Homo sapiens: one gene and its partner. The protein of the gene in region 1 purifies or fractionates together with the protein of each later gene. This does not show direct contact. Each region holds a gene or a part of one and is shown on either strand. Other genes may lie near its edges.

Evidence for each region.
Region 2: the proteins of PKHD1 (region 1) and NDFIP2 purify together in Homo sapiens (affinity purification with western blotting, with the first as the bait; one study listed by BioGRID). This does not show direct contact.

Annotation. Positions count from the first base shown.
Region 1 is NC_000006.12:52,080,880-52,084,705, reverse strand, and holds part of PKHD1 (fibrocystin), read left to right. Parts: intron 1-1,450; coding exon 1,451-1,528; intron 1,529-2,163; coding exon 2,164-2,314; intron 2,315-3,826.
Region 2 is NC_000013.11:79,487,623-79,491,448, forward strand, and holds part of NDFIP2 (NEDD4 family-interacting protein 2), read left to right. Parts: intron 1-3,826. UniProt on the Homo sapiens protein: Activates HECT domain-containing E3 ubiquitin-protein ligases, including ITCH, NEDD4, NEDD4L, SMURF2, WWP1 and WWP2, and consequently modulates the stability of their targets. As a result, may control many cellular processes.

The DNA of each region.
Region 1 (3,826 bases):
TGCTTTTGGGTTTAAATTATATGTTGAATAATTGTTTTTATTTTCTGTTTAACAGCTGAGGTTATATACTGAAATGTTATGACTATATACTTCAATTTTTAATGGTCAGTGAAGATTATTGTTGTAGTGCAGAGCTTTTAATAATAACTTATAACCTTTCTTTTATAATTCCTTTTGGGCTATGTGATGTAATTCTTTTTAGATTTTGCTGTCGGACTTTCCCAAAGAGATTAACTTGTCATAATCATTAGATTGCTTGTATTATCTCAAATCATCTGTTCAATTTTCTCTGCGAATTTGGTTATCCTCTGTATCTTTTTATGGCCTTTGTTTTGGGGCTTCTTTAGATAGAAGTATCTAATCATCTTTGGAAGATGGTCTAGTCTGGCTGGGGCTGCCATAAATGGTTGTGCTAATGTGACGTGGTTCCCCACCACCTTCAGATGTGAAGTGCATCATGAGAATAACTGTACAGGGAAGTCCTGGGCTAGACACAGTTTCTTCTAAAGAAACTATAAATAATTCTGTCGGTAACACTTTCCTTGTTTATTACCTCACTGAGCAGCTGCATGATTTTTGCTGGCTTCCTTAACTTGGCCTTTCCTTCATCAAGACTTGTCCAGGAACATCTTCAAAGATGGAGGGATAGATTAAGGCCCATGCTTAGCTGGTGATCTATACAGGAGAATCCAATCTAGCCTAGTATATAAATTCTATACTGCCTTTTTTTTTTTTAAACAAAAGGAAATTCCAGCAATGATCCATGCTTCACCCCCTCTCTAAGCAGGCAAGGCAAGAATCTAGATAATTTTGTATTCATTTGGGAAGTCATTCTGATCATGAGGGAAAACTAGTATATTAAGCAGTATATTGAGCAGGAGAATTGAAATAGGAACAGCTTCTATTAGGTTGGTGCAAAAGTAATCGCGGTTTTGCCATTAAAAGGAATGCAAAACAGCAATTGCTTTTGCACCAACCTAATGGAAGTCCTTTTTTCTCTCCAGGACTGGAAATGATTGATGATCTTTACAGGGAAATATGGCCACCTGATTAAAGAGTGGGAAAGAGAGCAGAGAGAGACAGTATGGGTTTGATTAGGACCCAAATATGTCCTTGAGGCTCTTTCCAAAGGAAGTAGAAATTCAGAATTGTCCTGATGAGTGCAGGGTTTTTGAATGTCTAAGATAAGAAGAATTTGTCAAAATTTTCCTTAAAATGGGGCTTCTGATGATGTGTTTCCCACACCAGCAGCACCTGGTTAGAAATGTAGATTCTTGGGCCTGCCCCAGACCTACGGAACCAGAAACTCTGGGGATGTGGTGCAACCACCTGTGCTTAATCAAGCCTTTCTGGTGATTCTGAGGCAGGTTAAATATTGCTTAAAATATTGCAGAAGGTAGTGGTTTGAATCTGACCTTCAAAACCAATGTTTTTTTTCACTTACTTACAGTACGTCACCTGAGTTTACATATTGAACCTGAAGAAGGTAGCCTTGCAGGGGGAACGTGGATCACAGTCATTTTTGATGGTAGGTTGGGGTTTTACCAAGTGCACATTTCTTATGTATTGACCCACAATCCTAAAGACTATGAGTCTTTGGTTTTCTTCCTTTTCTAAGGACAGGTGTAAAAGTGGGCCTGAAGGGAGACGAACAGACTGACCAACTTCTGTCTTTCTAGATACTGGCTTGCTAATGTCACAGAAGCAAAGCACAGCATACCATGACAACTCTGTGTCCACTTTCCCATTCCAGGCTGTGGGATGGGACTCTGGGATTTCTACATGAGATGATATGGAAGTGTGTAGCATAGTGCTCAGCAATGCATCTCCCAGAATCTTGGCTATCTTCCTTAAAGACAGTCCTCTACTTGGGAGCTTCTGCACCATTGCTTAGCATATCCATCCCCAGCAGAGTAAAGAGTAAATCTGAGGGCTGAAAAATTCTTTTCTGGATTTAGGTGAACCTGAAGAGAGAAAACTCTTTCATAAAATCATAAATGAGAAAACTCCTTTATACAGCATCTATGAGGAAATGAGGAGTATTAATTTAATCCTTGGGCAAATTTAATGTCTTACATTACCCCCAGGATCTTAGCACAGTTTCACACTGTCCTGTGTCAATGACAATTCTATGCAGCCTGAGATTTCTTTCCCTTGTGTTAGGTTTGGAGTTGGGTGTTCTTTACCCCAACAATGGCTCTCAATTGGAGATACACCTGGTGAACGTGAACATGGTGGTGCCCGCACTGCGGAGTGTTCCCTGTGACGTCTTTCCTGTTTTCTTGGATTTGCCTGTGGTGACATGCCGGACCAGGTATACCTGTCTGGGAATAGGAAGACCAGACAGGATGAGGGATTTTTGCTTATCTCAGTATCTTTTGGTGACATATTAGAGCAATTTTTGCTGTGATTCAATTGCCAGCCATAGTTGTTAAAAAAAGTTTCATGTGAATATGCTTTCTAAAAGGTCCCTATCTGGGGTCTAGAACTTAACGGAGGATGAGAGTATGGGGAAGAACTTTGAGATATTCGTAAGGAGGGGCTGGATTGTGTTTCCATTTGTTTTTTTTTGCAAAGAGTTCTATGGCTATTAAGATTTTAATAAATGGTACCATTTTGCCATTGCAAATACTCATCTTTTGGAATAGGCATAATTGCAATGATTGCACATAAACCCCAAACTGGTTAGAAAAGAAATTTGCTTTAGGCTCTGTTTGCTGAGTTTGACATTACCTCTATTTAGAAAATATTTTTATAAGACTCCAGGGAATCTGTTTTTCTACTCAACTTCTTGTTGCCCTGTGAAATTTAGACTAGTTCATGTTCATTTTTATTTACTCATGTCTTAGGCATGAGTAAATAAAGTGCATGCAAGTAGATGATTGGTTAAGAGAAAAAAAACACTGTTATTTCCTTTTCTTTTCTGTTCTCTCTTTGAGGAAGTCTCCCCCTCTTCCATGTTTGGCTATGGAAATCACCAACCATACCACAAATGCCACCTTTTCCCTGAACATTCAACTAAGTTATCTTTCCCTTTTTTGAAAGGAGAAGGAACAACTTGTAGTAATTCATCCACAGGGTGTATGTGTGTGTACCCACACTTTTCTGTGCAATTCATCACCCCGAAGGGATTTTTTTTTTTTGTAATTTACACAAAGGTACAGCACGTGTAGCCTTAGTGACCCTGTGCCTCAGCTCTGAGTTTTCATAACACTTATATGTCAGTTACCCACTTGTCAGACTCCTCCTCACAGAATTAAGTGCTTTGAGGGCAGGGGATGTGTTTAATTTCACCATTGTAGTCCTCATGATGCATTGCGCAATATCTTACGAGTAGAGGATGTTCAATAAATGTCTGTTGAATTTAACATTTTTATACCACTACTATTGGTTTTAAAACTGGGTTATATATTTCCCTTAGATTTTATGGCACATTTGGGCATAGACATTCTGCAAAGACTTGCCATGAAACAAGTCAAAGCTCTGGAGATTTACATGTCCTATCTCCTTTATCCCAACATACTAATGATTTTTGGATGCACCATTGATTTTATGTCATCTTTTTAAAGAAAAGAAATATGATCCTATTAAATATACTAATTGATTGGAAGACAAATATCAGATTCAATTAAGTGTGAAAAATGTACAGTTTTTCATGAACAAAATATGTCTTATTCATCATTATCATAAAAACATGTACATAATTGTTTTCTCTAAAACAGCCATTGCAGCATCAAAAGCAGCACTTCACAATCAAAATATAATGTGAACACAAATGTAATTTAAAATTTTCTATTTAGCCACTTGAAAAAGTCAAAAGAAACAA
Region 2 (3,826 bases), on another chromosome or scaffold:
TTTCCAAAGTCATTATGCCATTTTACACTTCCACCATCAATGTATGAAGTTTTGGTTGCTCCACACACTTGCAAACATTCTGCTGCTGTCAATCTTTTTAATTTTAACCATTCTGGGTTTATTAAATTTTTGAAGTTTAAAATTCCTGTTCTTAGCATACAAGTTTTTTTGAATGGGCCCTCCCTACCTGTACAGTGACATATCTCTGTCTTCTTAATTTTTATGCACTGATTTCTCATCTGAAGTTCTGTACTCTCTCTAGTTTGTTTGCCTCATAAAATCCTGTTCTTAAATGTAAAAACTCCTTCGAATCTATAATTGAAAGAAGGAGGTAGAGAGAGTTTCTGACCTCTGTCATCAGCATCAAGGCAGAAGAAAGTTAGGATAACTTGTTATACTGAATTATGTGTTTGTGTGTCTTTCTAACCTTCTAGACTACTGCTTTTTCTCAAAGGTGTGTTAGGGTTCTGTCAATGTCTGATTTTTATTTCATCTTTAAAATAGATCTTTGTATGTTGAAAAAACTAATTGAGGAAATGTACACTCAAATATGTTGTATACTAAGTAGTACACCAAGTTGTATACCAATACTCAAATGTGTTATATACCAAGTTGTTGCTTATAACTTGAAGACCAGTATTATGTCAATTTGGGTTGCCAGGGTAAATTGCTTTTAAACATACCCCAGATTAAAATTTCTCTTGCTATTTTTGTGCATGTCTTGATATTAACTGTAAATACGTTATTTGGTTGAGTTTAGCTCATTAAAAAAAAATTATACAAATGAGTACACACCTGAACAGTGCTGAATCAAATGGTAGCCTTTGCTTAGGCACATTTGAGCAGTACATGATCTAATACTGGAGTACTATATGTGTAGTGGCAAATAAATGTATTGGAATTGTATCATGAAAATACCATATTATAATTTATAGCTTATGTTTTTGAGTGCCCTTTGTCAGATTTATGCTAAAGGTAAGGGAGCAGTTTTTAGATATCATTATTGATTATGAAACAAATATCCTATAACTCATTCATCTGATATATAATAGCTATATATTATAGTACTTCTGTCTGCTTCTGTTTTAGGTGTTGGTTAATAAGACAGTTAAGTTTTTGTCTCATGGCTCATGCTTTGGTGGAGAAGTGCAGATAGATAAGTAAGCCTAATGTCAGATAGTAATAAATTCTTTGAAGAAAATAAAGCAAGTTGATGGAATAAATAATAAATTCTATCAATTATGAAATAGCAATAATAGAACAGTACTTACATTGTATTAATAAAATGCTGCTAAATGCTTTGTACATATTAGCACGCTTAATCCTTCCACTTCTATGAAGTAGATAATGTCATTATCCTCAATTTGCAGGTGAGAAACATGAGACACAAACAAGTTAAATAATAGGCCCAGCTGTGATGGAGCTGGTATTCAGACTTGGGTGTTTTAGTTTTATATTGCTGTGTAACAAACATCTCTAAATACAAGTATTTATTTTCTTTTAAGATTCCATGGGTTGAGTGTGATCAGGAGATTGTTGATTCTACTCCACATAGTGTTAGCTAGGACTGGAGCCATTTTGGGGCTTGGTTGGGTTGGAATTTCCAAGATGGCTCACTCACTTGGCTGCAGTTGATGTTGTCTATTTTCTGGAAGCTCAGCTGGAACTATTGACTTCAGCATCTCAGTTCTCCTTTGTGTGCCCTCTTGATGTGACCTTGGCTTCCCACAGCATAGAAGGAAGAGGAAGCTGCCATTCTTAAGGCCTGGGCTTGGAAATTCATAATGTCATTTTTGCAGTATCCTATTGGTCAGAGCAGTTGTAAGACCCCCCAAATTCAAAGGGAGAAGAAATGAATTCCATCTGTCAGTGGGGGAGAAACTTGCACATACATGGAGGGGAGAATGTGATAGTGGCCATCTTTGGAGATGATGTGCCACACCAGTCAATTTGACCCCTTAGTAGATAGGGATCAGCTTAGTCAGGTAACTCCATCCACTCTTAAGTTGTGACAGTCACGCAGACTTGATTGAAATGTGAAGATCTAGTTCTAGTTGATGAGTATTGTAAATGTGTTAATAACCTGTAGTGGAAATGAGTTTGTTGATTGAAGATATAGGAGGAAAGCTGTATGGCTGCAGCAAAGTTAAGGGGATGGCCTAGAGTGGAATGGGACAAAACAGAAACAAATTTTATGCTGGATTTCATAGAAGAATGGAACTGTCATTTATAACTCTAGTTTATAATTGTTTCATGAAAGCAGTTAGGTCCACCTACATGATTTGCAAGGTCTAATGCCGAATGAAAATGTGGGGCCCTGGCCTGTGATGAGGAAGTCAATCTCCCCTTTCTGTAGACCTTGTTTTTGTATAGGTCTGTGGACCCCCAAGCAAATATGTAGTCTCCATGTCAGGACATGCTCATTACCTACATCAGTGATAGGCAAGAGGCCACCCTCTGAATGTGCCAGGGTGATTCTAGCCTAGGATGGGGATGGCTGTCACCTTGCCTTTCCCTAGTTGTAGGGTGAGGATTAGGAGGTCAGACTGAGCCACAGGGTTCAACTGAGTGAGAACACTTCCTGGAGAGGCAGACCACTGGTGAGCTGAGGTGTCAGGCCCCTGGCACATGCTCCATTGGAGTCCTATTGGAGTTTACTTATAAAACTGATATTTAGAGATAAAATTATTAAGAATTTTAAGACAGTGATCACAGGGTATTAAACCCCAATCATGGATTCCTCCTGAGTGGTGGTCTCATGTGACTAGAGTGATCACATGCTCGTGAAGATGACCCTGAAGCCTATGTTACTTGGGGTGGTGGTGGTGGTGATGTAGACCAGGGGTTAGTAGATTAGTAAACCCTTTCTGTAAAGGGCTAGATAGTATTTTAGGCTTTATAGGCCATGTGGTCTCTGTCACAGCTACTCAGATCTGCCATTGTAGTGCAGCAGTATCCATACCAAATATGAAAATGAACAAATGGGCTGTGTTCCAGAAGACTATTTGCAAAAACAGTGTGCTGGATTTGGCCTGCTTGCTCTAGTTTGCCCACCCCAATGTAGATGTTATAGGAATGTACCTCATATAGGCCTGAAGCTTGGCATGTTGAAGGACGCTTCTAAGAAATTAATTTTTTATTTCACCCAGTCTCTAAATAAATTCCTAACAATGTGGTGAGGTTGTTTTGCATCCCTTACTTGCACCTGATAATCAGCCAAGCACCTAGTCTGTCCTAGAATTGGGATGGATATGAGTGGATAGTAGAAGAGAATATAATACTCCCTGTGAGAGTGTCAAAAACAGCTTATTCAAATATGGTAGAATCTTCATTCTGTTAGTGTGATTGCCTCATTGAGGTCATTCTTGACTACCTTATTTTAAATCACTATATCCCATTCACAGTACTCCTTATCGCTGTTTCCTGTTTGTTTTTATCCAGAGTACTTATCATCTTCTGGTATTCCAAATATTTTGCTTATTTATTTCCTACCTCCCTTCTTTCTCCCTGAATTTAAGCCTCATGGTGGTAGAGAGATTTTTGTCTGTTTTGCTCACTACTGTATATATCTTTCCATACCTGCCATATGGTAGACTTTCAGTATTTGATAAAGATGAATGAATGGTGCTAGTTCAAGGCCAATTTTATAGACATAAAACCTTGCCTATGTTATTTTATTCCTTTTTATATTTATTCTGTTTCTGCTACTGAGACCTGGGCTCTTTAAGGTGGGGGTGATGGTGGTGGTTGTTTCTTTGCATTCTCTTCCAGCTTGAAATATATTGCTTAGTCTTCCTCTGTCTCTCTCTCTGAATGGTGTCCTTTA